Homo sapiens: one gene and its partners. The protein of the gene in region 3 purifies or fractionates together with the protein of the main gene of each other region. This does not show direct contact. Each region holds a gene or a part of one and is shown on either strand. Other genes may lie near its edges.

Evidence for each region.
Region 1: the proteins of SUPV3L1 (region 3) and RBM3 purify together in Homo sapiens (affinity purification with mass spectrometry; 2 studies listed by BioGRID and IntAct, with this or other methods). This does not show direct contact.
Region 2: the proteins of SUPV3L1 (region 3) and USP9X purify together in Homo sapiens (affinity purification with mass spectrometry; 2 studies listed by BioGRID and IntAct, with this or other methods). This does not show direct contact.
Region 4: the proteins of SUPV3L1 (region 3) and HNRNPDL purify together in Homo sapiens (affinity purification with mass spectrometry; 3 studies listed by BioGRID and IntAct, with this or other methods). This does not show direct contact.

Annotation. Positions count from the first base shown.
Region 1 is NC_000023.11:48,569,310-48,577,483, reverse strand, and holds the start of RBM3 (RNA-binding protein 3), read right to left. Parts: upstream 3,001-8,174; 5' UTR 2,911-3,000; intron 2,317-2,910; 5' UTR 2,304-2,316; coding exon 2,201-2,303; intron 1,924-2,200; coding exon 1,817-1,923; intron 1,171-1,816; coding exon 1,065-1,170; intron 977-1,064; coding exon 880-976; intron 459-879; coding exon 398-458; 3' UTR 375-397; intron 20-374; 3' UTR 1-19. UniProt on the Homo sapiens protein: Cold-inducible mRNA binding protein that enhances global protein synthesis at both physiological and mild hypothermic temperatures. Reduces the relative abundance of microRNAs, when overexpressed.
Region 2 is NC_000023.11:41,165,219-41,172,580, reverse strand, and holds part of USP9X (ubiquitin carboxyl-terminal hydrolase 9X), read right to left. Parts: intron 6,710-7,362; coding exon 6,367-6,709; intron 5,100-6,366; coding exon 5,004-5,099; intron 4,575-5,003; coding exon 4,363-4,574; intron 2,587-4,362; coding exon 2,346-2,586; intron 2,112-2,345; coding exon 1,962-2,111; intron 744-1,961; coding exon 623-743; intron 1-622.
Region 3 is NC_000010.11:69,204,234-69,209,805, reverse strand, and holds the end of SUPV3L1 (ATP-dependent RNA helicase SUPV3L1, mitochondrial), read right to left. Parts: intron 2,014-5,572; coding exon 1,865-2,013; intron 1,207-1,864; coding exon 771-1,206; 3' UTR 713-770; downstream 1-712. UniProt on the Homo sapiens protein: Major helicase player in mitochondrial RNA metabolism. Component of the mitochondrial degradosome (mtEXO) complex, that degrades 3' overhang double-stranded RNA with a 3'-to-5' directionality in an ATP-dependent manner.
Region 4 is NC_000004.12:82,427,463-82,435,303, reverse strand, and holds the start of HNRNPDL (heterogeneous nuclear ribonucleoprotein D-like), read left to right. Parts: upstream 1-4,841; 5' UTR 4,842-5,613; coding exon 5,614-6,056; intron 6,057-6,857; coding exon 6,858-7,026; intron 7,027-7,124; coding exon 7,125-7,286; intron 7,287-7,739; coding exon 7,740-7,841. Other genes in the region: ENOPH1 (enolase-phosphatase E1), read right to left, coding at 4,391-4,474. UniProt on the Homo sapiens protein: Acts as a transcriptional regulator. Promotes transcription repression. Promotes transcription activation in differentiated myotubes. Binds to double- and single-stranded DNA sequences. Binds to the transcription suppressor CATR sequence of the COX5B promoter.

The DNA of each region.
Region 1 (8,174 bases), on a different chromosome or scaffold from region 3:
GAAATTATTCCTTGTGTATCTGGGAACAGCAAGAGGGGGAGAATTGTGATGTCATGAAGTAACAGCTGACAACATGCTCACCTCCTAGAGCTGATGAAGATGCTGAGGGTTGGACAACAGGGACACACCTTCATTTCCTCCATCCCACACAAGAGTAGAAGATTATAGGAGATGGGTTTTCAGATCCCACCCCCTAGCAAACTTGCTCTGATATGCACCTGAGAGCAAGGAAGGCCTAGCTAGGAATGTTTGGTAGGTTGGCTGGGTGAGGTATGAGGGCAGCAGAAATGCAGAGCAGTCTTGCCAGAAAAGGTGAGAGGGTCATGACAGAGTGTGACAAACAGGTTCACTCAATGCCGATATCCAAGTCTCACCTATATTATGTGCATGTCTCATTTCAGTTGTCATAATTGTCTCTGTAATTTCCTCCTGAGTAGCGGTCATAACCACCCTGGTTTCTGGGGGGGAAAAAAAACACACAAAAGTTTTCTGGTACTGCATTATATATACCACTGTAATTATATGCGTCACATTTTACAGTATGGGTCATAACATAAACCTTACGTATCAAAAACAGGATATGTTAAGCATATGAGTATCACAGTAAACAGTTTTATGGCATACGATTTATACGCAGTATATTAAATCATATTACATGTTAAAGCAATATAGTTATATAACCCACACAGCACAACATATATAGTATACTTTACCATGTCGCAACTATATGACTACACAATTAACTTAAAATGCTAAATTTCATACTCATTTTAGGTACACATTAGTAACAGCAAGGTGTGGTATGCATGAACACCCAGGCGCTGAGTTCTTAAGGAGAGGGAAGCAATAGGAGAACATCCCAGCCCTTTGGCTACCCACCTGCCATTATAGTCTCTGGAACGTCCATATCCATATCCATACCCTCCAGGTCGACTGTCATAATACCTGCCACTCCCATAGCCCTGGTCCCCACCACCTAGAGCAGAAAAATATTTAAATGGCAGTTGTCCACACATAGGCAACTCTCCCTCTCACCCCATGATCAAAACGATCACTGCACTCACCTCTAGAGTAGCTGCGACCACGCCCATGGGCCCCAAAGCCACCTCCTCTGGTTCCCCGAGCAGACTTGCCTGCATGATCCACACGGATCTGACGACCATCCAGAGACTAAGTGTGGGAGACACAAGGATGATGGGTTGGCAGTCAGTCAGGGCAATGGTGAGGGAAGAGCAGGCAAGGGTAAGTGGGCAAAAGAGGCCAAAAATTCCTGCTGGGCACCAGGTTCTGGGTGCCATGTTCCAGAATAAGCTCCTTTACCCCAGAATGGCTTCATCAGGAGCTATAGAATCCCACACAAAATGACCTGAATGCACCATGTTCCCCTTGCTACTACTTACATCTTGACTGAACTCAGGCTGAGTTCTCCTCCCCACTCCTCTAAGCTGCCCGACTATCAGGGCTAGACAGACACCTCTCTTGGTTTGAGGCTTCAGAGTCCATGTCAGAAGACTCACGAGGTCCTCTCCGGGCCAGGCCCACAGGTCTGCAGACTCTACTACCTAAGCCCAAGGCAGGTCAACCATCCACAGGTGGCTTCTCGGCCTCATGCAGGACCAGTCGTCGCCTCCCAGGCGGCCAGGCTCTGTCTGCCGCTGCCCTCCACCCCCTAGAACAAAAGGCAGTCATGCTCCTGTGAGTGGGCACTGCGGGGCTTGGTGGCCACGCTGCCCCGAGCAGACACAGAGGGAAAAACAAAAAGAATGAAGGAAGCCGCAGATGGGGACAAGGTCCCTCTGCAGATAGGAGGCCCCACCTCTCCGTTCATGGCTCTCATGGCAACTGAAGCATGCTCTGGGTTGGTGAAGGTGATGAAACCAAAACCCCTGGACCGCTGAGTCTCCCGGTCCTTGACAACGACCACTGTGAGAGGGAGAGAAGATGGAGCAATGTGGACCAGTCAGTACCCCAAAGGTTAAGTAGCAAAGGGTGGCCGGAAAAGGAGATGGCATAGGTAGGGAAAACGGAGCGCTCCCACTAATCCCAAAGACGCTTCCCCTCATCCTTAGTCTACACCATAGGCTTAGGAAGAAAAAGAATTTGGAGGCGTGGGTCCTAACTTTTCAGTTAATACTCCTTGAAATGCAAGGATCCCAGACTTTCTCTCACCAACCCCCATTGTGAGTATGGCCCGTCTCACCCTCAGAGATAGGTCCGAAACTGCTGAAGTGGTCTTCCAGTGCCTGCTCGTCGGTGTTAAAGTTGAGCCCTCCCACGAAGAGCTTTCCTTCTTCAGAGGACATGGCAGTTCAAGTCCTGTGGGAAGAACATGAAGAATGGTGGCAGGAAGGAGAAAGAAAATGGAGATGTGAGAAAATAGCGAGACGGAAAGCAGAGAAAAAGCACAGAAAATAGACAAGAAAGAGGAACAAAATATGGGTAACTACAGAAAAGCTGAGAAAGGCGGCCAATAAGGTGGTAATCTGAGGAGCTGGCTCAGCGCAGCCACCATTAGGGGGCCACATTGCGCATGCTCTCACATTCATAGCCGCCACGCCCGTCATTTTGTGCCACTGCGCAAGCCCAGAACATCCCTGCGTTCCCTTAACGCCGGCAGAACAAGATGGCGGCGGCCACGTGGGATAAGGAAAGTAAGTGTCGGCTGTCGCGTGGTCACTGCCACCACCGACGCCACCAGTCCCTCCCGGTAGGCCTCACACTCAGATACAGCGCGCCGGCCTCCCACCAACCGAAATGTTTCACCTCCAAGCACGGGACCCGCCCGTCCCAGAGAAAGCCAAGCCTACGTGTCAGTGGCCATTACTCTCCCCACTCGCTATTCCCCGGTCACGGCCGGCGCGGCGCGTGTGTGGCGAGGAGCCGCCGTTTCGCAGGACATATGCAACTTACCTGGAAATTAAAACGTAAAAAACCCGGACGAACAGCGAGCTCGGAGGAGCACAAAAAACAGGGACGGGGCTGCGCCGGAAGACGATTGATAAAGAGTACGTAGCGAGAACGTCCCGGAACGTTCCCCTTGCGCGTCCCGGCGTGCGTGCTGATTGGCTGAGGCCAGCAGGAGCGGAGTGGTGGGGAGAGGAAGGGACAGCAAAGCGAAGGGAGCAGTGTTCTCCGCGAAATGGGGTGTTTCCGGAAATGGGGTGTTTCCGGAAATGGGGTCGACTTTTGAACAGCTGGTGCACCCTAAACGTCAGCATCCCCCCCACAACCGGCTGAGCTGCCTTTATCCCTTCCACAAAGGAACCTTCTCAATCTCATACTACTTGCTGTCCCTGACATCATCCTCCCGTCCTTGCCATCATTTCCCCCGCTGGATCGGATGTCTTCCTCACCATCGTAGTCGTCTTCCTCTAGGTCCCTGCCATTCTCTGATGTTAACCTCCTTCACCTTCTAGTTCTTTAACCTCATACCCTTTAAAGGCCTGACATTTTATCCCCCACCGTCACTGATGTCATCACCCTTCACAGTCCATGATGTCAGACCCAACGTTTTAAGGTTTGACCCTGACTCCTACTCTTTCTCCTCTGTGCTCAACATCTAGCCGCCTGTCATGGGACCCTTTTCCCTGGCGTCATTCCATCTCATCTCTGACTTCAGCCCTCACCCTTGTCTGACTGCTGGCGTGAAGCCAGCCCCTTAATTTTCTCACCAATAGACTGCCTGAGATGGCTTTTACAAAACAGGATGCTGGCCGGGCGCGGTGGCTCACGCCTGTATTCCCAGCACTTTGGGAGGCCAAAGCGGGCGGTTCACGAGTTCAGGAGTTCGAGACCTGCATGGCCAACATGGTGAAACCCCATCTCTACTAAAAATACAAAAAAAAAAAAAAAAAAAAAAAAAGAAAAAAAAAATTAGCTGGGTGTGGTGGCACGTGCCTGTAGTCCCACCTACTCGGGAGGCTGAGGCTGGAAAATCGCTTGAACCCGGGAGGCGGAGGTTGCAGTGAGCCGAGACCACGCCATTGCACTCCAGCCTGGGTGAAAACAAAACAAAACAAAAGAGGATGCTACGATCTTCAGAGGTTGTAAATCCCAATCCATAGAGCAATTTTTGCTCTCTTCGAAAGTAACTGAGCCCTTGCCGGGCGCAGTGGCTCATGCCTGTAATCCCAGCACTTTGGGAGGCCGAAGTGGGCAGATCACAAGGTCAGGAGTTCAAGACTACCCTGGCCAATATGGTGAAACCCTGTCTCTACTAACAATACAAAAAAAAAAAAAAATTAGCCGGGCGTGGTGGTAGGCACCTGTAGTCCCAGCTACTCAGGAGGCTGAGGCGGGATAATCGCTTGAACCCGGGAGGTGGAGGTTGCAGTGAGCTGAGATCATGCCACTGCACTCCAGCTTGGGCGACAGAGCAAGACTCAGTCTCAAAAAAAAAAAAAAAGTAACTGAGCCCTTGATTCACAGAAGGGACTTTCGCAATACACAATAGACTTATCCCAATCAAGTAGTGTCTGAGCCCACTGTTCACAATTTAGTCTTCAGTGTCTTGGCCACCTTTACAATAAATGGATTTGACAGATTTTTCACTTCTGAGCGCCACATCAACGAAGAATAAGTTAGTTTGCCCTCAGAGGCTAAATTTCTTATCCATAGAATGAATTTGCCCAACACAGACCAAATTTGCTAACATACAGAATACAGTACATCCATATTCCTGTTGGGGTAATTCCCATATTTATCTTCCTGTTATTGTCAGGGATTCCTCACATAGTCTAATTATTAATCCCTTAGGTGTTGGAAATAGCCTCTCCAGCTCTGGCATTTGTGTTATTAACTTTGTAAGCAGTAAACTTAGTTGAATAAAGATCCATAATTTTGATATAATCATTTTTCCCCCTATGTTCTGTGCTTTTTTCTGAGACGGAGTCTCACTCTGTCGCTCAGGCTGGAGTGCAGTGGCATGATCTCAGCTCACTGCAACCTCCGCCTCCCAGGTTCAAGTGATTCTCCTGCTTTAGTCTCCTGAGTAGCTGGGATTACGGGCATGTGCCACTATGCCCAGCTAATTTTTGTATTTTTAGTAGAGATGAGGTTTCACCATGTTGTTCAGGCTGTTCTCAAACTCCTGACTTCATGATCCGCCTGCCTCGGCCTCCCAAAGTGCTGGGATTACAGGCGTGAGCCACCACGCCCGGCCTGGTCTGTGCTTTTAAAGAAATCATTCTCTTTCCCAGGTCACAAAATGTTCCCCTACAGTTTCTTTCTTTCTTTCTTTTTTTTTTTTTTTGACAGAGTTTCGCTCTTGTTGCCCAGGCTGGAGTGCAATGGCACTATCTCGGCTCACTGCAACCTCCGCCTCCTGGGTTCAAGCAATTCTCCTGCCTCAGCCTGCTGCGTAGCTAGGATTACAGGTGTGTGCCACCACACCTGGCTAATTTTTGCATTTTTAGTAGAGACAGGTTTTTGCCATGTTGGCCAGGCTGGTCTTGAACTCCTGGCCTCAAGTGATTCGCCTGCCTCGGCCTCCCAAAGTGCTGGGATTACAGGCATGAGCCACCGCACCCGGCCACATTTAGGTCTTTAATCCATGTAGAGTTCGTCCTTGTATATGGTGTGAGATAGAGCTCCAATTTTATTTTTCTCTGTGTCATGAGCCAGATGCCCCATCACCATCTATTAAGCAATCTGTCCCATCCCTGTGTGTGTTTTACCACCTCTATCATGTATCAAGTTCCATAGATATATGGGTCTGTCTCTGAGGTGGTTTGTTGCTGGTTTTGTTGTTATTGTTGTTTTTAAGAGATGAGCCCAGGCTGACTCCTGGCCTCAAGCATTCTCCCCAACTCAGCCTCCTGAGTAACTGGGATTACAGGGGAGCACTATTGTACCTGACTTCTGAGCTTTTTTTTTTTTTTTGACAGAGTCTCACTCTGTCGCCAGGCTGGAGTGCAGTGGCGCGATCTTGGCTCACTGCAACCTCCGCCTCCTGGGTTCAAGTGATTTTCCTGCCTCAGCCTCCTGAGTAGCTGGGACTACAGGCGCGTGCAACCACGCCCAGCTAATTTTTGTATTTTTAGTAGAGATGGGGTTTCACCATGTTGGCCAGGATGGTCTTTTTTTTTGAGACGGAGTCTCGCTCTGTCGCTCAGGCTGGAGTGCAGTGGCGCGATCTCGGCTCACTGTAAGCTCTGCCTTCCAGGTTCACGCCTCAGCCTCCCGAGTAGCTGGGACTACAGGCGCCTGCTACCGCACCCAGCCAATTTTTTTTTTTTGTATTTTTTAGTAGAGGCGGGGTTTCACCGTGGTCTGGATCTCCTGACCTTGTGATCTGCCCACCTCGGCCTCCAAAAGTGCTGGTATTACAGGTGTGAGCCACCGTGCCCGGCCTTCTCTTCTAATTGGTCTACTTCTTAGCTCTTGGGCCAATATAGGTTTGTTGTTGTTTTTTTTTTCCCTTTTATTACTAACACCTTTAATATGTCTTAATATCTAGTGGGCAAATCCCCATCATAACGCTTTCTTTGAAGGCTGTCTTAACTGTCCATGATTCATTACTATTCTAAATTCTAATGTAAGTGTATTGCAGTTCTAACAAAAAGAAGTAATGAGGTCAGGCATGGTGGCTCTCGCCCAAATCCCAGCTACCTGGGAGGCTGAGGCAGGAGGATCGCTTGAACCCAGGAGTTGGAGTCTGCAGTGAGCTATGATCGTGCCACTGCACTCCAGCCTGGGCAACAAAGTGAGACCCTGTTTCAAAACATTAAAAAAAAAAGTAATGGAAGTGTTATTGAGAGTGCATTGAATTTTTACATTTTGGGAGAAATAACGTCTTTTTTTTTGAGATGGAGTTTCGCTCTTGTTGCCCAGGCTGGAGTAAAATGGTGCAATCTCGGCTCACTGCAACCTCCGCCTCCCGGGTTCAAGCAATTCTCCTGCTTCAGCCTCCTGGGTAGCTGGAACTACAGGCACCCACCATTATGCTCGGCTAATTTTGTATTTTTAGCAGAGACGGGGTTTGTCTATGTTGGTCAGGCTGGTCTCAAACTCCTGACCTCAGGTGATCCACCCACCTCGGCCTCCCAAAGTGCTGGGATTACAGGTGTGAGCCACCATGCCCGGCCAAAATAACATCTTAATAATATTAACTGTGGAGGTTTTAAGATATGGTCACACTCTGATACTGTACTCGTCAAGAGTTGGAGCCTAACTTCCTTCCACTTGCATGTGTGCTGGACTTAGTGACTCAATTGTAAAGCACAGAATGAGGTGGAAGTGATAGTGTGTCATTTCCAAGACCAGGCTGTAAAAGGCACATCTGCTTCATGCTCTCTGTCACACAGACTGCTCATTATGTGGGACATTAGCTGGTATGTCATGAGCAGCCCTATGGAGGGATCTAGGTGGCAAGAAAGTAAGGCCTCTTGCCAACAGCCATGTGAGCAAGCCTTCTTAAAGGTGGATCCCAGCCTTCAGATAACTGCAGTCCTGGCCAACATCCTGATTGTAGCCTCATGAGAGGCTCTGAGTCAGAACCACCCAGTTAAGCCACTCTCAGAATCCTGACTCTCCAAAACCATGTGAAATAATAAATGTGTATTGTTTTAGCCACTAAGTTTTGGGATAATTTGTTAAAAATAACTTATATATTACCAAAATCTTTCCAGCAAAGAGCATAAAATGTCTCTCTTTTATTCAGATCAATTTCTATTGTTAGAGTTTAAATTCTTTAAAATAGAGGTCTCTTGTATTAAATTCATTCCTACTTTTTTTTTTTGTTGGTTATTGCTGCTATACAGAAATGCTTTTGATTTTTACAGGTTGATGTTGATTTTGTATTGGGAAACCTTGCTGAACCCCTTTTTTTTTTTTTAAGATGGAGTTTTACTATTGTTGCCAAGGCTGGAGTGCAGTGGTGCGATCTCGGCTCACTGCAAACTCCACCTCCCGGGTTCCAAGTGATTCTCCTGCCTCAGCCTCCTGAGTAGCTGGGATTACAGGCACGTGCCACCACGCCCAGCTAATTTTTTGTATTTTTAGTAGAGATGGGGTTTCCTCATGTTGGCCATGCTGATCTCGAACTCCTGACCTCAGGTGATCCATCCGCCTCAGCCTCCCAAAGTGCAGGGATTACAGGTGTGAGCCACCACGCCTGGCTGCTGAACTCTCTTATTAGTCCTATTAGTTGTTTTTGTCATTCTGTTTGTTCTTTT
Region 2 (7,362 bases), on a different chromosome or scaffold from region 3:
GTGGGGGTATGTAACAGTTAAGTTTTCATCTACACAGCAGAAAATCAGTATATATCTGTAAGTAACAAAGAAATAGCTGTATGAGGACACTCCAGACATAATGGTACATATATATACTAAAGTAAAAGCGAGAAGTTGGAAGTGGTTGTTTCTAAGGATAAAAAAGGAACAATACCGCAGATGACACATGACCCATATTATAGTCCAGGTATAGGCAAACATTTTCTGTAAAGGGCCAGGAAAGTTAAGCAGTTTAGGCTTGTGAACCATATGGCCTCTGCCACAACTCCTGGGCGGTGCTATTTTAAGACAAAAGCAGTCATGTAGACTGAATGTAAACAAATGAGCCTGGTTTTGATCATGGACACTAAAATTTAAACTTCATATAATTTTCATGTATCACAAAATATTATTCTTCTAGATTTTTTTTTTGTAGCCACTTAAAAATATAGCTCTTGGGATGCACAAAAACAAGCAGGGGGCTTGATGTGGCTTGTGGGCTGTCATCTGTCAACTCTTGTTATAGTCTATACCAAAAAGCACGGTCCATTTAGAAACAGAATTTGCTAATATACTCCTTTATTGTCCAGCAAGTACTTGATCATCATTTAAAAATTCTTACCTGGCGGCATAAGTTTCATAAGTACTCTTGCTCCATCTCTAAGGGGTGGCATATTTAGGCTGCTACCTAAGTCTGCAACTTGCCAAAGAAAAGAGATGTATCTGGGATGCAGTGACATTATCTAGAATATAAAATACACAAAATAATTACCTCTAAATTATTTACTCCCGTTTTATAAAAGCCCAAGTAAGTTTCTCTGTGTTAATCCCTATACTTTTACTTATGAAATTTCTACTCTTTGAAATAGTCTGACTTTCCCATCTTTTAATCCCTACAAATCCTTAATAGTGCAGATCAAATACATCATCAAGTCACTTCCAGTCATTTTTTTGTGATAGCTCCTCTCCTGTTCTATTAAACCATTTCTCTCATATATACAATTTAGACTCTGGACATAACAAAAGGCTGCCATGCCCACTACCAAATTCTTAATCCAGTTGTTATAGAGAGCCAAATCCTCCTGACACTGGAGTGGCTGCTACTATTGTAACCATTAAAATTTCTGTCGGGAGGGGCGAAAGGAGAGCTTAAAAATATTTCTTTGGCTATATGTTACTGACAATCTGATAAAGATTACAGGTATTTTCCTACATAGTTCTTGTTTTCATTTATTTATATTTTTAGAGATGGGGTCTCACTCTGTTGACCAGGCTAGAGCATAATGGCACAATCGCAGCTCACTGCAGCCTAGAACTCCTGGGCTCAAGCAATCCTCCTGCCTCACAGCCTCCCCAGTAGCTGGAATTACAGGTGTGAGCCACCATGCCCAGCTCATATATAGTTCTAAAAGAACTATCCGTTTTGTGGTATAAATTTTAGAAAGTGATACAGCTGACTCTTGAACAACACAAGTTTGAACTGCACAGGTCCATTTACATGCAGACTTTTTTCCCAATCAAATGTGGACAGAAAATTCAGTATTTCCAGCAAGCAAAACCCAAGTATATGGAAGGCTAACTTTTTGTATATCTGGTTGCACAGGGTCATCTGCAGCATTTTGGGTATATGCAGAGGTCCTGGAACCAATTCTCCACGTATACGAGGGATGACTGTTTTCCTCTAAATTTATACATCCAATAGTGTTATAATTAAGCTCTAATTGGTTAATTTTATGTAAAAGTAACAATACTATACCTATGGGGAAATTATGTTTTAAATTCCAACTGTGTTACAATTACCTTTTAGAGGGATCCATTCTGAAGTTGGTGGTTAACTGTATTTTTTTGTCTCATTAAACTGTAAGCTCCTCAAGAAAAGAAAGAACCACTCTATATACTTTATTCTCAAAAACCCTAGCATGATGCCTTACATACAGTAGTTCAAAACTGTATCTACTCACCACTCCAGGCAAACAGCTTTCCACTTCTGGATTGGGACCATCACTGTAATGATTACCATGGTTTCCAGGAGATCCAGTGGAGGAATCAGAAGAGCTATCAGGGCTTGAAGGCATATTGGAACTTATCTGTGTAAGTTTGGCTGTAATAAGCTGAAAATTATATACTATGTTAATATCAAAAACAAGGAAAAATACTTACACAAAACACAAAACTTAGTGATATACCAACCAAAAAATCCGAAAGACTACATGCTATACTTTAATGCTATAACTCTAACACCTAACACAGTCCCAAACATAACAAATGCTCAATTAGTATTTACTGATTAAACGATAGTCTCTGGTTTGATTTTATTGAAAAATCTGTTAACTATACATACATACCGATTTATCTTTTAAGTTTAATTGTCCAATCAACTTTCTATCATCTGCAGGATCTATCAGCTCACCGCCCACAAAGAGCTCAATTTTTGTATGGGCTACGTTGGCTTTAATACGATTGAGAATACATCGTCGTACTGAACCAATTGTATCATTTGTATGAGACCATACCTCCAAGTCATCAACCTGTCTGCCCTGGTTTGGAAATCGAACTACAAAAGAGAGGTGTTTACCGCGGAATGCTCTGGGGGGAAAAAGAAAGACAGACATCATCATATTCAGCAGACTCTGAAATTTTGTTGCCAAGAAAATAATGCTGGGGATTTAACACTAAGTATTTTCTTATTAAACAAGAGGATGTGAATTAAAGATACTTAATACAGCTTGAGAATCCCTTATATGAAATGTCTGGGACCAGACAAATTTTGGATTTCTTGGATTAGGGATACTCAACCTGTATTACTTTCAGTATCTTGAAAATAAGGCCAGGCATGGTGCCTCATGCCTATAATCCCAGCACTTTGGGAGGCCGAGGCGGGTGGATCACTTGAGGTCAGTAGTTCGAGATCAGCCTGGCCAACATGGTAAAACTCCATCTCTACTAAAAATACAGAAAATAAGCCAGGCTTGGTGGTGGGCGCCTGTAATCCCAGCTACTTGGGAGGCTGAGGCTGGAGAATCGCTTGAACCTGGGAGGCAAAGGTTGCAGTGATCCGAGACTGCACCACTGCACTCCAGCCTGGGCAACAAGAGTGAAATGCAAAAGAAAAAAAAATATTGCTCCTTTTAACTAAAAATATAAATAATATTTAAAAACATAATCATATTCTATTGTTGTTAGTCTTGTATCTATGGTTGCAGAAAATGAGGTGTCTACTAAAATGAAATTAAATCCAAGATATAACGCTTATTTTTATGCTGTAAAAGCCCAACTCACTAAGACTATTTTTAAATGTAAAAGGTTGGCTGGACGCAGTGGCTCATGCCTGTAATCCTACCACTTTGGGAGGCCAAGCAAAGAAGATCCCTTGAGCCCAGGAGTTCAAGACCAGCCTCGACAACATAGGTAGACCTTGTATTAATAAAAAAAAAAATTCAAAAAAAGAAGGTAGAGTTTACCTTTTACATTTAAAAGGTCGTTTTACATTTTGTTAAAAGCATCAACAAAAATGCCACAATGCACTTTATTTTTTTTCTGGAAAAAAGCCTTCATATCAAAATTCACTCCAAAATGCTATTTATATTGGTATAGTACCTTTTTTAAAGTAAAATACAAAATAAAAATCATATTCAAGAAGCAACTGTATATAATTTCATGATTAATAAACAAAACTCTTTAAAAAAAATGATGGCATTGACTACACAAAACATCCCAAAACTATAAACACCATTTGAAAATATTTGTTATATGCCATGCAAGGCAGCTTTTAAGAGCTCTTTACAGGCCAGGCACTGTAGCTCACGCCTATAATCCCAGCACTTTGGGAGGCCAAAGCAGGAGGATTTGCTTGAGCGTAGGAGTTTGAAACCAGCCTGGGCAATGTAGTGAAACCCCACCTCCACAAAAAGTCAAAAAAAATTAGCCAGGTGTGGTAGCCTGTGCCTGTAGCCCCAGCTACCTGGGAGGCTGAGGTGGAAAGGTCGCTTGAGCCCGCAGTGAGCCATGATTACACCTCGGCATTCCAGCCTGGGTGACAGAATAAGACCTTTTCTCAAAATAAACAAATAAACAAAAACACTTCAACTGCAAAATGCCACTGCAACACTTAATGAGTAATAATGTCAAAGACAAAAAGAAAACTAGAAAACAACTTAAGAATGCCTCACCCAAAAAACCAAAACAAAACCAGATGGGAGAGTGGGGGAGGTTATTAAAAAAAATTAGATGAAATGAAAATGTTTTTAATGGGCAAAGACAACAATTTTCAAACGAGAAAAATTTCTGCTCTCCTTTTACCAAATGGCTAGGAAAATATCAAATAATTAAGAATTAGCACCAATAGATTAGTTATTCACAAACCTCGACATAGGGAGAATTGTTCTTTCCTCATGATAATCACTGTCACATTCATTTATATATTCCCTTAAAACAGTTAATACTCGAACCATTCGAACAGCTTCCTGTCTTGCACAATTAACACTGTCTTTGTCACCATCCAAAACACACAATGTGTCATAGGAAGCCTTCAGACGATCAAAACAAGACTGAATGAAGTCTTCATGGATCACCACCTACAAATATCAGGCCAAATAAACACAGTTAAAATTGCTTTAAAATGTAAAAACCAAATATTAATCCAATTAAAGATGGCAATGGCTGATTTAATTGTAGCACTCAATTAACAACAGTCATATTTAAGTAGAGAATCCATACAATAATAAAATGTATGTTTATTAAAAGGAAGCTAGCATTACATAAGTTAACAAACATAAATTAGTCAAAAGTGAACTTCAGGATTAGGTGTTAGCATCAAAATGAATTCACATAGACTTTCTTTGCCATTTCAACATCTAATAAATAGTTATATTAAAAATAACCCAATCACTTCAAGACAACTAACAAGGCAAGATTCATTTAGATAATATTTTTTCTCTTTTGTATAAGAGAAATGGGGGCCGAAAGAATTATATATGGAAGTTTTAATGCACATCAATCCTCACCTGATTGACTTGTAGTCTTGGACCAAGGTTCGTGTATATCTCTTTGAGGAGATCTATAGCTCTGCTGGCAATATCATCATTACTCTGAATCACGACCTGGTTTCAAAATGATAAAAGTATTCATCCCTTTCAACATATATTTTTGTTGGGCATTTAAATTCAAACCATATCCTCAGTTATCTTAAACACACTATTCAATGATTTAATGGTAAGTTGACTTTGATAATCAAGTAAAATTAAGTGAGAAGCACAGACCAAAAGAAAGGGTAATAAATGCAAAATGAAAGTCTCTGAATAATTTAAGAATGAAAGGTACATTTTTGTAAAAATAAAATACGCTTTGACCACTATTATTTAACCCTATAATTTAATATCTTGATAACCAAGTGAGACACTCAAGAAGAAATTCAAATTAGTTGACAGGAAATAAGAGATTACATGAAACACAGTTTAGCATAAAGGACTACTCTACCCCCAGTTTCTATAAATCTTTATCACTCATCTAATTACATTAGTGGTTTCCAAACTATGTTCAGAACCCTAGGGGACTTTGAGGAAGTGTTTCAGTGTTGGCCCCTATAAAAGGGTTGGGGAGGGGAAAGGGGATAAGCATGGGGAGACCAAGTAAGAAAACATATTTTCCTTGTTCAATTCAGTTTACTTTTGTAGTGTGGTGCAAATTTTGAGTTTTAAGATGTGTTTCTGCTGTTAAAACAATGTTGAAAACCACATACTTAATTAAAAGCTTTTAAATACTCAAATGCCACAATAAACATCTTTATCTATGGTTTGCAGGAAAATATGTGAGACATCCAAACAATATAAACTGCTGTATAACAGGTCAGATTAAAGATAGGCATAATAGAGTAGTACTATAAAAATAGATTAGCCTTAAAAAGATAGTATTTTATTCCCCCAGGTATTTAAAAATATCACAAGGTAAACAGTGCCAATAAAGCATATACTCATAATCTATACTAAACACAAGTCCTCTCTTCTGTCCTCTATTTTAGTGTTAAACATTGAAGAGGAGGAAACAGATCGACACTGAATGAAAACTCGGGAAGGAACATTAATATCCACGGGGGAGGAATGAAAGATTTGTATGTTTAGTGCACATCTATGGAATACACAGATACTAAGCTAAGACAAAAGGAACATCAGTGGCAGGAGGAGGGAGAGGAAGAGAGAAGAAAAAGCCCACTGACAGGTGACATAATAAAAATGAACAATTCCTAACTACACCAAATTCCTGAGACAAACATCAGAGTAAAATACACAATTTATATGCAAAATTACAATTCCTTACGTACATGAAAAAGTACATCAGACACCATTTACAGAGTTCCTACTTTTGACTTACCCTCCAAAGGTAATCTAATCCTATTAACTCCAAGTCATCCATCATATAGGCTCTCCTTTTTGCTACTAGTTTTCCTTCTCGACAATTCACAGCTTTGAAGAATCGCTCAAAACACTTCATTCCATTTTCAGTTAACAGAGAAGGATCAAGCTGAAGCACATTACTTTCAAAGAAGTCCTTATTAATATCAGGATCTAAGTCTGGTTCATCCCCCATCAACTTGGAATACCACTTAAAACAGGCTTCACGATCACAAAGGTAAACTGCATTCTCAGCTAAGCATTTCCATATTTGTTTTGCCTGAGGAGCACATAGCCACAGCTGACCATCCTTCAATAAAAATCTTGAAAAAACATTGAAAATTGGCAATTAGATTTATGTAATTTTTATCCGGAAAGGCAATCTGTATTACCTATAAAATACATTTATCACCATTATATTTTAACTATAGATAAAAAGATATTCATTCTTTCAAAATAACCTATTTCTCTACTTTTATCTGGTACTAAAAAAAAATCCCCACTAGATATTAATTAATTCAACAAGCACACACTGAACACCCACTTTGTGCCTGAAATGCAGCTAGCTGAATTAGGAATAAAAGATTCATTCCATGAACCTTTAGTTTTTGAAACCAGACTTTTGGAAAGAAGCATGTTTAGTAGCTTGAGTTAAAAATAAAAGACTTAGGCTGGGCACAGTAACTCACGCCTGTAATGCCAGCACTTTGGGAGGCTGAGGTGGGCGGATCACCTGAGGTCAGGAGTTTGTGACCAGCCTGGCCAACATGGCAAAACCCCATCTTGACTAAAAATATAAAAATTAGCCGGGTGTGGTGGCTCATGTCTGTAGTCCCAGCTACTGGGGAAACTGAGGCATGAGAATCAATTGAACCCGGGAGGCGGAGGTTGCAGTGAGCCAAGACTGTGCCGCTGCACTCCAATTAAAGATGGCAATGGCTAATTTAATTGTAGCACTCAATTAACAACAGTCATA
Region 3 (5,572 bases):
AACTTCGTTGAACAAGTGTAGGCTGGCCTTTGGACAAGGGAAGACCACCCTACCTAAAACAGCCCTTCCCTGCCACTCAGCATCACTCTTTCCTTATTCTTTCTAGCATTCATCTCTAAAATTACACCCATTCATCTCACAAAGAATGATTTTGCTTCTGCTATATTCCAGATACTGTGGATGCAGTAGTGAAATAGACTACAATCTCTGCCCTCACCGATCTGACAGGATTTATTTGTTAACCTGTTCCTGTCTCTCCTACCAAATATGAGATCCATGAGGGTAGAAGATTGTCAGTCTTGCTTACTGCATATTTCCAGCACCTAAATAGCCTCTGGTATATGGGTACAACAGACAGCAATGTTTGTCAAAGAACTGCATCCATGACATCCTCAGCATGGCATAGGAAACTGGTCAAACAATTCACCAAAGTGATTTTATTCCCATGCAGAGTTCCTTATAGTGCACTGTCTTAGTACTATTCTACAAATGGCCATTATATAAAGACTTAAATTAAACCTCCATGATATCCTAGTATTTTCTAAATGTTGAAAAAAAAAAAAACAAGTTTAGTCATCAAGAGAGATTTTTCTGTGCAAAAAAAGAAAAAACAAACAAACACACACACAAACACACACACACACCAAAAATCCCCCAGTACCAGATAGCCACAATACTAGAGGAGGGAGTAAATGCATATGAGGAAAAAGGATTCAAAATAAATTTTTATTTGCAAAATTAAATAAAAAAAAAAAAACAGGAACAGAAAACTAGTCCGAATCAGGTTCCTTCTTCTTTCTTCTCGTCCCTTTTGGATGAGTCCCAGACTCTGTTTTTTCTTTGTTGTGTTCAGTTTGTTGTGTCATCCACTCTTTTTCTAGCTGTTTCAGCATGTCTGGAGTGAGGAGTCCTTGCTGCACCAATCTGGAAGCAAGGGACAGCTCTCCTGCATCGGGGCTGGGTGGCTCAGTAGCTTTACTCCCTAGAGCTTTGGTGCCGCGTGTCCTTCTAGCTTGGCTCTTTAAGGTTCCTGACAATCGTGACTGGCTCCCTGATGGAAAGCCCTCCAAATTCAACAGCTTATGCGTCTCAGACATTTTAATCAATTTAGTGATATTGTGCACACCATCTTGGATAATACCATCTAGTTCTTTCTGGAGATCTCGAATAAGGCTGGCATCTGGAAACATATCCATAAATCGGTAGCTGGGAAAAAGACACATTAGCATTATAGCAACAGCTCTTATCGCAGTCACTGGACAACTCTCAATGGCACACCTACATCATGACATTGATAAATTCTAAATGTTCTTTTTGCAAACTCTCTTCAGTGCCTTTGCTCAACCTTGATTTCTGCCCCCACATATCGGAGGAATATGTCATCCTGAGGGTGGGTCAGCACTATACCTCAATAGACTCTGATATACTCCTGGAGAGGGACATGCCCCTCCTTTGAGAATCACTGGCCTAGAACAGGACTTCTCAAATGATAATGTACAAGTGAATCACCCAGGGATCTTGTTAAAATGCAGAATCTGATCAAGTCAGGCATGGGCCTGATACTCCTTAGTTCTAACAAGCTCCCAGGTGATACCAATGCTTTTGGTCCAAGGACCATCCTTTGACCAGCAGGAGTCCAGTGGACCTTCCTTCTCACCTAGCCATCTTAACTAGAATTGCAAGAACTCAAGTCATTTTTGGAATGGGAAACCATTCCATCAGTTGAATTGCCTTTATGGACAATAGACATAATATAGAGCATCTTGCAAATATGTCCATAATTTGAAATAGAAAAACAAATTCATAAAACCTTTAATTTGTCCTACTAGAAAAATGAGAGCACATAAAGGAAAAATGTTGGTACCTTAGCCACAAGTAAAGATCCAAGACATCGTGGACAGCTTCAAGATCCATGAGGTCTTTAATATTCTTAGGTGGAAGTAAAGGCCATTTGATGTATCGGCGTAACCATGCAAAGGTCAGGGGCTCATTCCTGCTATACTGCCTGGCAAACTGAGAGAGAAAGAGGAAAAGGGTTTCAGAGAAGTGTCAGAATTCCCTTAAGTCTATAATTAGAAAGAGAAAAAAAAGAAAGCAAAACAAAACATTGTGGTTGTATTTCAATAGACAGGTGGTTTCTTTTCTCCTTTATACTCTTCTACATTTTAAAGAACATTTAATACTTTATAAGGCCAGGTACAGTGGCTCACGTCTATAATCCCAGCACTCTGGGAGTCTGAAGCGGGTAGATCACTTGAGCCCAGGAGTTCGAGACCAGCTGGGGCAACATGGAGAAACCCCATCCATACAAAAAACACAAAGAATTAGCTGGGCATGGTGGTGTGTGCCTGTGATTCCATCTACTCCTCAGGAAGCTGAGGTGGAGGATTACTGAGCCCAGGGAGGTCAAGGCTGCAGTGCGCCATGATCGTGCCACTGCACTCCAGCAGTGAGACCATTTGGAGAAAGAAAAAACAAAAAAAGATGATTTCCTTCTTTTTCTAAAACCAGGGTAATAATATGTGCAGCAGAAGTTCAAGGGCTACTCTGGGCACACTACCTATAGGGTATCCCTGCTCCACAAGGAGCAGTTAAAAAAAAAAAGAAGCTGTAGAAGGACTAACTTTCCAGGGCCTAAGTCTGTTAACTCTTATTTAGGAATATGTGATGTTCTAAAGCTATGGACAGACAGTACCTGAAGACTCCTATTTCTATCTCATATGTAATAGTCCTATAACCTCAAATACGAGCTTAAGTTTCTCTATCTTGTTAATGTCCTCCCTTATTTTTTATTTTTTTGAGACGGAGTCTCGCTCTGTTACCCAGGCTGGAGTGCAATGGCACGATCTTGGCTCACTGCAACCTCCGCCTCCTGGGTTCAAGTGATTCTCCTGCCTCAACCTCCTGAGTAGCTGGGATTACAGGCGCCCGCCACAACACCCAGCTAATTTTTGTATTTTTAGTGCAGACGGGGTTTCATCATGTTGGTCAGGCTGGTCTCAAACTCCCGACCTTGTGATCCACCCGCCTCGGCCTCCCAAAGTGCTGGGATTACAGGCGTGAGCCACCGCACCTGGCTGTCCTCCCTTATTATATAGAAACCCTCTGAGGTGGCCTGGTGCAAGGCTGGTCAGAAGTCAATCTTGGATCTGCCTCCTGCGAGCTGTGTGGCTTTGGCCAAGTCAACACTCTTTGCTTCAGCTTCCTCACTGGTAACGTGAGACATCACAGCCCTGTCTTGAACCACAAGACACTGCTGGGGAATGTGCTTTCAAAACCATGTTGCATCCCAGAATTAGGCAATATTATACATCACCTGTACTACAGAAGATAGACATACAACCACACAGTAAGACCCCTCAAGCAAGAGTTTAAATAAAATCTTCAGCTTCAAGATTCAAGCTGATTTCAAATGATTCATTTCCTGATTAGGGGAAATTATCTCTAAATGCTTAACCTAAGCAAGGTTAATACTTCAGAGAGGAAGAGCAGTTTTAGATCAATTGTAGTTAAATAATGCCACAATTTTGTTAAATTCAGTCTGGTCCACTCTGCTAAGTTTAATAAATGCCAAGTAGGATAGCCATAAAGGGTAGAAATGTGACCACACTACCTGCTAGGCAGGACAGGCCAAGCATGAGTTCTCAAGTTATCTTATAAAGGCAGTGGCTCTATTTTTTTTGGCCACAAACAACTAGTGGAAGCCCAATACATAAAAGAGCTAAGTAAGGAGCTATGCAGAGAGAGCAGGGAGAGATGCCCGCCCATCCATCCATCCATCCATCCATCCATCCAGCAGCTGGCCCTAAAGGAGCTCCATGGAGCACAGCTTCCAAATCACAGTCCTAAGGGGCATCCTAAGTCATTAATGTGATTGAGCTCTTTCATAGTTCAGTAATGACAAAGATCAGGAAAAAAGGAAAAGCCTCTAGATTTCATATTCTAATTTTTAAACAGAAAACACACGGAGCGGCCGGGTGTGGTGGCTCATGCCTGTAATCCCTGCACTTTGGGAGGCCAAGGCGGGTGGATCACTTGAGGTCAGGAGTTTGAGACCAGCCTGGCCAACATGGTGAAACCCCATCTCTACTAAAAATACAAAAAATTAGCCAGGCATGGTGGCGGGCACCTGTAATCCCAGCTACTCGGGAGGCTGAGACAGGAGAATCGCCTGAACCTGGGAGGCGGAGGTTGCAGTGAGCCAAGCTCATACCACTGCACTCCAGCTTGGGCAACAGAGTGAGACTTCATCTCAAAAAGAAAACACACCACGCATCATGGCGCACACCTGTAGTCCTAGCTACTCAGGAGGCTGAGGTGGAAGGATCGCCTGAGCCCAGGAGTTTGGGGTTACAGTGAGCTATGATTGTGCCACTGCACTGCAGCCTGGGCAACATAGTGAGACCTTATCTTAAGAAAACAAGCAACTGTTGACCTGCATGTTCCAGAGACTCCCTACACCTTAGTAAAGAGCTTCTATTCACTAGAATAGCTGTTTAAAGGATGGTGTGAATGGTGCCAAGGCCATGGGACTGAGTTCCACTCAGGTCAGTTTACAGCAGTTCAAGACTGTTCCATAAACTTCAACCTTATGCTAGCTAAGTTTTTCACAAATGCCAGCTCTAAGAAACATATTTTCTAGGTAAACATCTGGACATGGAAGATCTCTAACACATATTATTAAGAGAAAAAGAAAAGGCAAGTTGTGAGTAATTCATTAAGATAACGTTGATAGGGCTGGGCACAATGGCTCATGCCTGTAATCCTAGCACTTTGGGAGGCTGAGGCAGGTGGACTGCTTGAGCTCAGGAGTTCGTGACCAGCCTGGGGAACATGGCGAAACCCTGCCTCTACAAAATATACAAAAATTAGCCAGGCATGGCACATGCCTGTAATCCCAGATACTCAGGAGGCTGAGGCACGAGAATCGCTTGAACCCAGGAGGCAGAGGTTGCAGTGAGCTGAGATGACACAACTGTACTCCAGCCTCAGCGACAGAGTGAGACTCTGTCTCAAAAAAAAAAAAAAGATAATTTTTTATGGGGAAATGCACCCTCACAACAAATCTAGTGTTTCCACATGAACATGCACATAGGCAAACGCAATGAAAAACAGTCTGCAAAGATACACACAAACTTACACAAGTAGTTATTTCAGAGGACTAAGATTGGGGAGGGAGCCACATTTAAGCTATCTGTAATGTTCTCATTTTGTATAAAGAGAATGTATGTATTATTTATGTAATTTTTTTTTTAAAGGGCAGAGTCTTGCTATGTTGCTGGAGATGTTCTCGAACTCCTAGGCTTAAGCAATCCTTCCTGCCTCCCAAAGTGCTGGGATTACAGGCATGAGCCACAGCACTGGACTATTTATGTTATTTAAAAAATAAGTTTAGAGCTAGATTTGATTAGAATATAGCTCATATGTAGAATGCTCAGGCCTACAGAGGAAATGGCAGTGAACCTCAGTGAGTCAGGACAAGATTCAGAGAAGAGGAGGCCTTTGGGTTTAGTGGGGTGGGGAGAGCATGCAAAGCAGAGGAAATAGGGCGGGAGGTGAGAGAACATGTTAT
Region 4 (7,841 bases), on a different chromosome or scaffold from region 3:
TGTGAAACCCCATCTTTATAAAAAATAAAAATAAGCTAGCTAGGCATGGTGGTGCACACTCGTGGTCCCAGCTACTCAGGAGACTGAGGTAGGAGGATTGCTTAAGCCTGAGAGGTCGAGGTTGCGGTGAGCTGTGATCGTGCCACTGTACTCCAGCCTGGGTGACACAGCCTGACCCTGCTTCAGAAAAACAAAGACAAAAAAGAACAAACACCAGAGGTATGTGTCCTGCGGTAAAGTGCAGGGATGGTGGCGGTGGATTTAGATGCGGTGGGAACATCTAAGGAAAACTGGGCTCTGCTGCAGCTCTACTCCCAACAAATTTTGATGATCCTCAGGCAAGACACAAAGACATGCTATAAACTGAAATTTGTTACCATATACTTTTTTTTTTTTTTAAAGACAGTCTCGCTCTGTCACTCAGGTTGGAGTGCACTGGCACGATCTCGGCTCACTGCAACCTCCGCCTCCCAGGTACAAGCGATTCTCCCACCTCAGCCTCCCCAGTAGCTGGGATTACAGGTGTGCGCCACCATGCCCAGCTAATTTTTGAATTATTTATTCCTTTTTTTCTTTTCTTTTCTTTTTTTGAGACAGCGTCTTCCTCTGTTGCCCAGGCTGGAAGGCAGTGGTACAATCTCGGCTCACTGCAACCTCCACCTCCTGGGTTCAAGTGATTCTTCTGCCTCAGCTTCCTGAGTAGCTGGGATTACAGGTGCCCACCACCATGCCCGGCTAATTTTTGTATTTTTAGTAGAGACGGGGTTTCACCATGTTGACCAGGCTGGTCTCAAACTCCTGACCTCAGGTGATCCACCTGTCTCGGCCTCCCAAAGTGCTGGGATTATGAGCCACCATGCCTGGCCTACTTTTTGTATTTTTAGTAGAGACTGGCTTTCACCATGTTGGCCAGGCTGGCCTCGAACTCCTGACCTCAAGAGATCCACCTGCTTCGGCGTCCCAAAGTGCTGGGATTACATGCCTGAGCCACCGTACCTGGCTTGTTACCATATACTTTTATAGCACAGTACTTCACATTGATTAAAGAACTCTCATACTAACTGTGTCATTTAACATACACAACCACCAAGCAAAGGAGACAGGACAAACAGTAGCATCCCATTTCCAAGGCTGAGTGCAGTAATGGAAAAAATAAGAGTTTTTATGAATAAGACAATCTGAGTTCAAATCCCAGGCATCTTGTTCAACTTTTCAGAGGCTTTGTTTCATCCTAAGTAAAGTGTAGACAGTACATACACCTCATGGTCTTTTAGAATGAGTCAAGGATTGAGTACTGCACGTATACAGTACTCAATGTTTCCTTCCATCATTCCACAGAAGGAAGGGCTACAAGTTCACACACCTACTCTGACTTTAAAGCTCCAAGCAGATTATCTTTCAACTCCCATGCTCAACCTTTCCGTGCTCAGATTCAAGAATGTAACTCAGCATCTCTTTAAAAGGTGTTTAAAAGATTAGTCACTGAGATACTCTACTAAAAGTTTTTTGTTCAAGTAGATTTGTGAAATGTCACTCTCTTGAAATCTCACAAAGTGTGTATGTGTGTATATATATGTATGATACCGAAGGTTCTGAGAAGTCTTGCAATAAAGAAATCTATTTGAACTCATTCTAACTAGCATTTCCCAAAAGTGCATTTAATGGAATCCTTTTTTACATAATTACCATAAACATCCACACAGACCTAACTTTCTTTTAAACATACTTTTAGGAAAAATGGTTTTGATAAATTCATGTCTAACAAATTATAATAATAGATTAGATTATAATAGATTAACAATATTAATAACAATAGATATTATTATAGGACAGGGCACAAGAAATTATCCTTTAAACAAGATCCCTAAATCATTCTTTTGCAGCCTGCATTGAAATTGCACATTGCCTAGCGTCAAATTCAGAAAAATTTATTTAGGCAACTAAGACATTTTTATTTTTGGATTTCAGAATAAGTCTGCCACAGACACAAAGATTCCAAGAAGTGGCTCATAATGTCATCTAGCAGAAGACACACTTGGGGAAAAAGGTGGGGGAGGGGTATTATGTTTTGTTGCAAAATTGATTTTGTATGAGGTTTCTTACTCCCCAAATCTACCTTCAGAAAACGGTAGTATCTAATGATCTAATGCCACATCACTACCTCTCCTGTCCTTATCCTTGGTCTCCTGATGACCGCAGAAAGCAAGAGAGAGCCAGAGTGGAACGAGTGAGCTGTTAACTATAAATTACAAAAATGAGGACTCCTTTTTTCTCTGAAAACCAAGAAAGCGGTTACTCTGTCACAATCCAAAAAAAAAGGAAATTAATCAATCATCAGTATTTGTCCTGAAATTTTCCGCAGAGGTCTCTGGTGTGATTAAAAACGTGGGGGAAGGTCAGGCGCGGTGGCTCGCGCCTATAATCCCAGCACTTTGGGAGGCCGACACGGGAGGATTACCTGAGGTCAGACCAGCCTGGTCAACTAAAAATACAAAAATTAGCCGGGCGTGGTGGTGCGCGTCTGTAATCTCAGCTACTCGGAAGGCTGAGGCACCAGAATCGCTTGAACCCCGGAAGCAGAGGTTGCACCACTGTATTCCAGCCTGGGAGACAGAACAAGACTCTGTCTCAAACAAAACAAAACAAAACAAAACAAAACGTGGGGAAGAGGCCGGGTGCCATGGTTCACGCCTGTAATTCCAGCACTTTGGGAGGCTGAGGTGGGTGAATCACTTGAGGTCAGGAGTTTGAGACCAGCCTGGTGAAACCCTCTTCTACTAAAAATATAAAAATTAGCTGGGTGTGGTGGCACATGTCTGTAATCCCAGCTACTGGAGAGGCTGCGACAGAAGAATCGCTTGAAGCTGGGAGGCAGAGGTTGCAGTGAGCTGAGCTCACACCACTGCACTCCAGCCTGGGCAACAGAGCGAGACTCCGCCTCAAAACAAAAACAAAAACCGTGGAGAAAATGCTAAACTCGATTTCTTCTGAACCTATGCTAAGATGTCAAGGTACTGTGATTCTTCTAAAAGAATTTTAAAGGTTGTTATGTTTGGTGTCCTAAAAGTGTACATGGATTTTATATTATAACCTACATCAAGAAACTCATTCAGGCCAGGCGCCTTGGCTCATGCCTGTAATCTCAGCACTTTGGGAGGCCAAGAATTCCAGACTAGCCTGGGCAATATGGCGAAACCCCGTCTCTACAAAAAATACAAAAATTAGCCAGGCATGGTGGCTCTCCCTTCAGTCCCAACTACTCGAGAGGCTGGGGCAGGAGGATGCCTTAAGCCCAAGGAGGTAGAGGCTGCAGTGAGCTGTGATTGCACCACTCCACTCCACTCCAGCCTGGGAACAGAGTGAGACTCTCAAAGAAAAAAAAAAAAAAGCCTTATTCACAGATAATTTTTTTTAAAAATGGAAACTAAAATAGAATTTAAAACCCAAGCTGCTCAGTTTCTTGGAAGATGGATTTTTCCTACTTGGTAATATACTTTGTATATCTCGACTATTATTGTGCATGCAAGCACCTCTAAGAAGTACTTGTATCTGCAATGAATTCTTAAACCTCAGGGAGCCAAATAAAAAGACAAGGCCCGAGGAATTCTTTCAAAAATTAAAGTAACATTTCATATTTGCTTATTCTAACAGACAAAGAATAAAGAAGGAATCCGCTAAGTTGCAAGCTGAGGTGCAGACAAGTGCTGGTTCACAGTGACATCCTAGAAGGAATGCTCTGGATAAGAGCTTCAAGCTTCTGTGGTTTTCTGAGGAAAGTGAACGGAATCTAGACGTGTCCTATAGCTCAAAAAATCAGCGCTATGGACCACAGCGCCTAACAGAGTAAAATAATACACTGTGCAGTTTGGCCACTAACAGCAAGAGTGGGAAGGGGCGAAGAGGAACCTTGATTGCCCGACACCAGGGCCACCTGAAAAGTCATCTTGACACTTCAGTCTTTCCATTTTGAGATCGGAAGCTTTAAGGACCATTAAATCGCTGCCGCTGCCACACCAGGCCCGACGGAGCAGAAAGGCTGCGCTCACCTGCGGAAGCGACCGGGTGCACACCTGCCGGGTGGCGAGGCCCGCACCGTCACACCCCGCCCCGGCTTACCTGCCCTTCGGTGATTTTTAGCGTCAACTTCCATCCCTTCCCACCCATCTGGATCCAACCAAGCGCAAGGGCGGGGGAGGGAGAAGCTAGTGTCGCGAGGAAAAGCATCCCCGCAACCCACCGCAGGCTTTCTCTCCTTCCTCCCCATTCCACACAAGAGGCAGCCACACCGCCTCTCCTAACCCTCGTCTCCAATGCAAGGCCTGAAATACTTAGAAAAAATAATAACTGTTTTTAAGGAAAAGTAACATCCCCGCTCCCTTCCGCCCCTCACCTTCACGAAAGCAATCGGGGTTGTGGTACCTTCGATATCTAACAGGATCACGGTGACTTCGGCGGGGACCGAAAGCACGACCATTTCCCTACCGGATGCTACGGGACTCGGCCTGCTGTTGGGGAGGGCGGAGGGCGGCGCCGGCTGCGGCTGCGGCCCCCGGTACCGTCTTGGGCTTCCGGCGGCCCCGCGCGATCTCGGAGCCAGCGACCAAGTGCAGCCCGCCGCGCGTGGGGAGAGGACACTTCTGCACACCTGGAACTGGAAAAGGCGGCCGCCCAGGAGCCCTGAACTCGTGAGCAGGACGGGGCAGGAGCCCGAGACCACGTGGGCAGGAAAAGGGGCGGCCCTTGACGGGTTCGGCGGGGCGGGGAGGGTGAAGGCGCCAGCGCCGATTGGCCGCCGTCAGGCCTCGAACTGGATCCGTCAAAATGGGCCTCGCGTGGGCGGGAACAAAGAAGCGAACGCGGGAGCAGGGTGCGCGAGAGCGCGCCCTCCGCAGACAGGTTGAGCGAGCGGGAGAGGCCCGGGGCACGTGCAGAAAGGAGCCCCGCGAGTGGCGCGCCGGGGATGTGAGTGCCCCTTGCCCTCTACTGAATCCAGCCCCCTCCCCGCCCACCGCCTCCGCCTTTGCATAGATACAGTCATCTGGCCAGCCCCCGCCCCTCCTCCCGGCGTCAGCCCGCCAGAGGCCGCGCGGGGCCCGGGCTTCGGCCGATCAGCCCGGGAGGCCCCGCCGCGCCCCCTTGGCCCGCGCGCCCGTGGTCACAGTGGAAGAGGCGCCCGCGCTGCGCTGCCCGGAGGAGCCGTCGCGCGCCCGCTTCCTGTTCGGCTGGTTCCTGCCAGCTCGAGGACAAAACACGCGTGCGCGCGGCGGGCGAGCGCGCTCGCCGCCTCAGTCGCCAGCGCCGGGCGCAGTCCGCCTTTTTCCGGAGCAGACTGGCCGCGGTGCTAGTCGGTAGCAGCGGCCGCCGCAGCGGCTCCGCACTGGCGAACCGAGGGCAGAAAAAGGCGGGGTTGACGGCTTTTTGGTAGGAGTGGGCTGGACCGGACGCCAGAGACAAAGGCTCCCAAGGCAAGAGGGACTGTGGCCCTGCGTCGGCTCTGCTCGGGACTGCTGACCCCAGGAATTTACGCCCCTTCGTTTTTCTCTTCTGATTCTTCTCTTCTCCCAAGCCCGCGTCCCCTCACGCGTGGCCTCTCTCCTTGCCGGGAGGGCCGCGATGGAGGTCCCGCCCAGGCTTTCCCATGTGCCGCCGCCATTGTTCCCCTCCGCTCCCGCTACTTTAGCCTCCCGCAGCCTCTCCCATTGGCGGCCGCGGCCGCCGCGGCAGCTAGCCCCGCTCCTCCCTTCGCTCGCTCCCAGCTCCGCCCGGCAGGGGGCGCGCCGGGCCCAGCGCCACGTCACCGCCCAGCAGCCCTCCCGATTGGCGGGCGGGGCGGCTATAAAGGGAGGGCGCAGGCGGCGCCCGGATCTCTTCCGCCGCCATTTTAAATCCAGCTCCATACAACGCTCCGCCGCCGCTGCTGCCGCGACCCGGACTGCGCGCCAGCACCCCCCTGCCGACAGCTCCGTCACTATGGAGGATATGAACGAGTACAGCAATATAGAGGAATTCGCAGAGGGATCCAAGATCAACGCGAGCAAGAATCAGCAGGATGACGGGTACCGCACGCTTCTTCCCCCGCTCCCCCTCCCCCAGCGCGCCGCACGCGCCCTTCGTTCCTCGTGAGCCGCGCGCTGCCCCCATTCTTTCTCAGAGTCGATTCCCCGCGTGCCTTCTGGGCCCCACTAGATTGGAGGGAAGAGGAAAGTAAGAGATCGAGGGGGTGACTGGAGAGACCCGGGAAGAGTGGGGGAAGGGCGGAGGGGTTGGAGGAGGAGGGCGGCGGCGTCTGTGTCCCGAGCGCGCAGGCGCCGCGTGGGACCCGGGGGGGAGGGGCCGGCCTCCCAGCGCTGCACGCTGCAGCTGCCGCCGCCTCTTCATTGTGTCTCTGTTACCACTCGGCGCGGTTTTCCTGGGAAGAGTTTTAGAGGACTGAGTTGGGGCACAAGCAGGCGACTGGTACCCAGATTCACAAAACGTGTTATGATTGATGAGTTCTCTGGGTGGAACGTTGGCTTGACAGCTGAGAACGAAGATGGACCTAAGTAAGATAAGATGTGAGGGATTCATCTAGGAAGTTGTGCCTTCTACCTAAAGGAATCTGGGCAGAACCTTTACTGTATTTTATTGGTCTCTTTTGAGCTTTGCTTTATGTAGTGCGGACAGTGAGCTGTCCGCTGGTTTGAGTAACTTCGTTGGGATATTGGGATTTTTGTGTGACATAGATTAAATGTAAACATGAATTAAATTGCCTACACTTAGGGGGTAAATGTCCCTGTTTTTATTTCACGATTTAATTCCAGAACTGAAGGATCATTTGAGTTATTGTTAATTTTTTTTAAAAACACTTTTATTTCTAGTAAAATGTTTATTGGAGGCTTGAGCTGGGATACAAGCAAAAAAGATCTGACAGAGTACTTGTCTCGATTTGGGGAAGTTGTAGACTGCACAATTAAAACAGATCCAGTCACTGGGAGATCAAGAGGATTTGGATTTGTGCTTTTCAAAGATGCTGCTAGTGTTGATAAGGTAGGAACTATGTTTTGCATTGTGCTGCTTTTGTGGTGTTTTGCAAATTTTTCTGGGGGTTATATGGTGCTGTCAGATTAAATAAATCTGTCTTGTAGGTTTTGGAACTGAAAGAACACAAACTGGATGGCAAATTGATAGATCCCAAAAGGGCCAAAGCTTTAAAAGGGAAAGAACCTCCCAAAAAGGTTTTTGTGGGTGGATTGAGCCCGGATACTTCTGAAGAACAAATTAAAGAATATTTTGGAGCCTTTGGAGAGGTGTGTGATTATGTTTACACATGTTAAGCTTGATGTGTTTATAAAATGTTCAATCCTTGTCCGATTTATGCAGGGCAGATTCATGTTTCCTGTAAGAGTAGAATTAAATGACTGCTCAAGTCGCTTCCAGTGACTGTACCTTGATTTCATTGCTGCTCTGATGGAAACCCAACTATCTAATTTAGCTAAAACATGGGCACTTAAATGTGGTCAGTGTTTGGACTTGTTAACTAGTGGCATCTTTGGGTACAAAATAATATTAATTTCTCTCAATGCTTCAAATATACAACAAATCACTGTAGGCTGATGTTGATCATAAAGCAGTGATGTCTGTATAGAAGTCACCCGATAAGAATAACATGTTTAAGTTGAAGCCTGAAAAGGCCTTTGGCATTCTGACACTGTAACGTTTTACAATTATGGGATGACGTTGAGTGTGCATCTCGATTTCAGATTGAAAATATTGAACTTCCCATGGATACAAAAACAAATGAAAGAAGAGGATTTTGTTTTATCACATATACTGATGAAGAGCCAGTAAAAAAATTGTTAGAA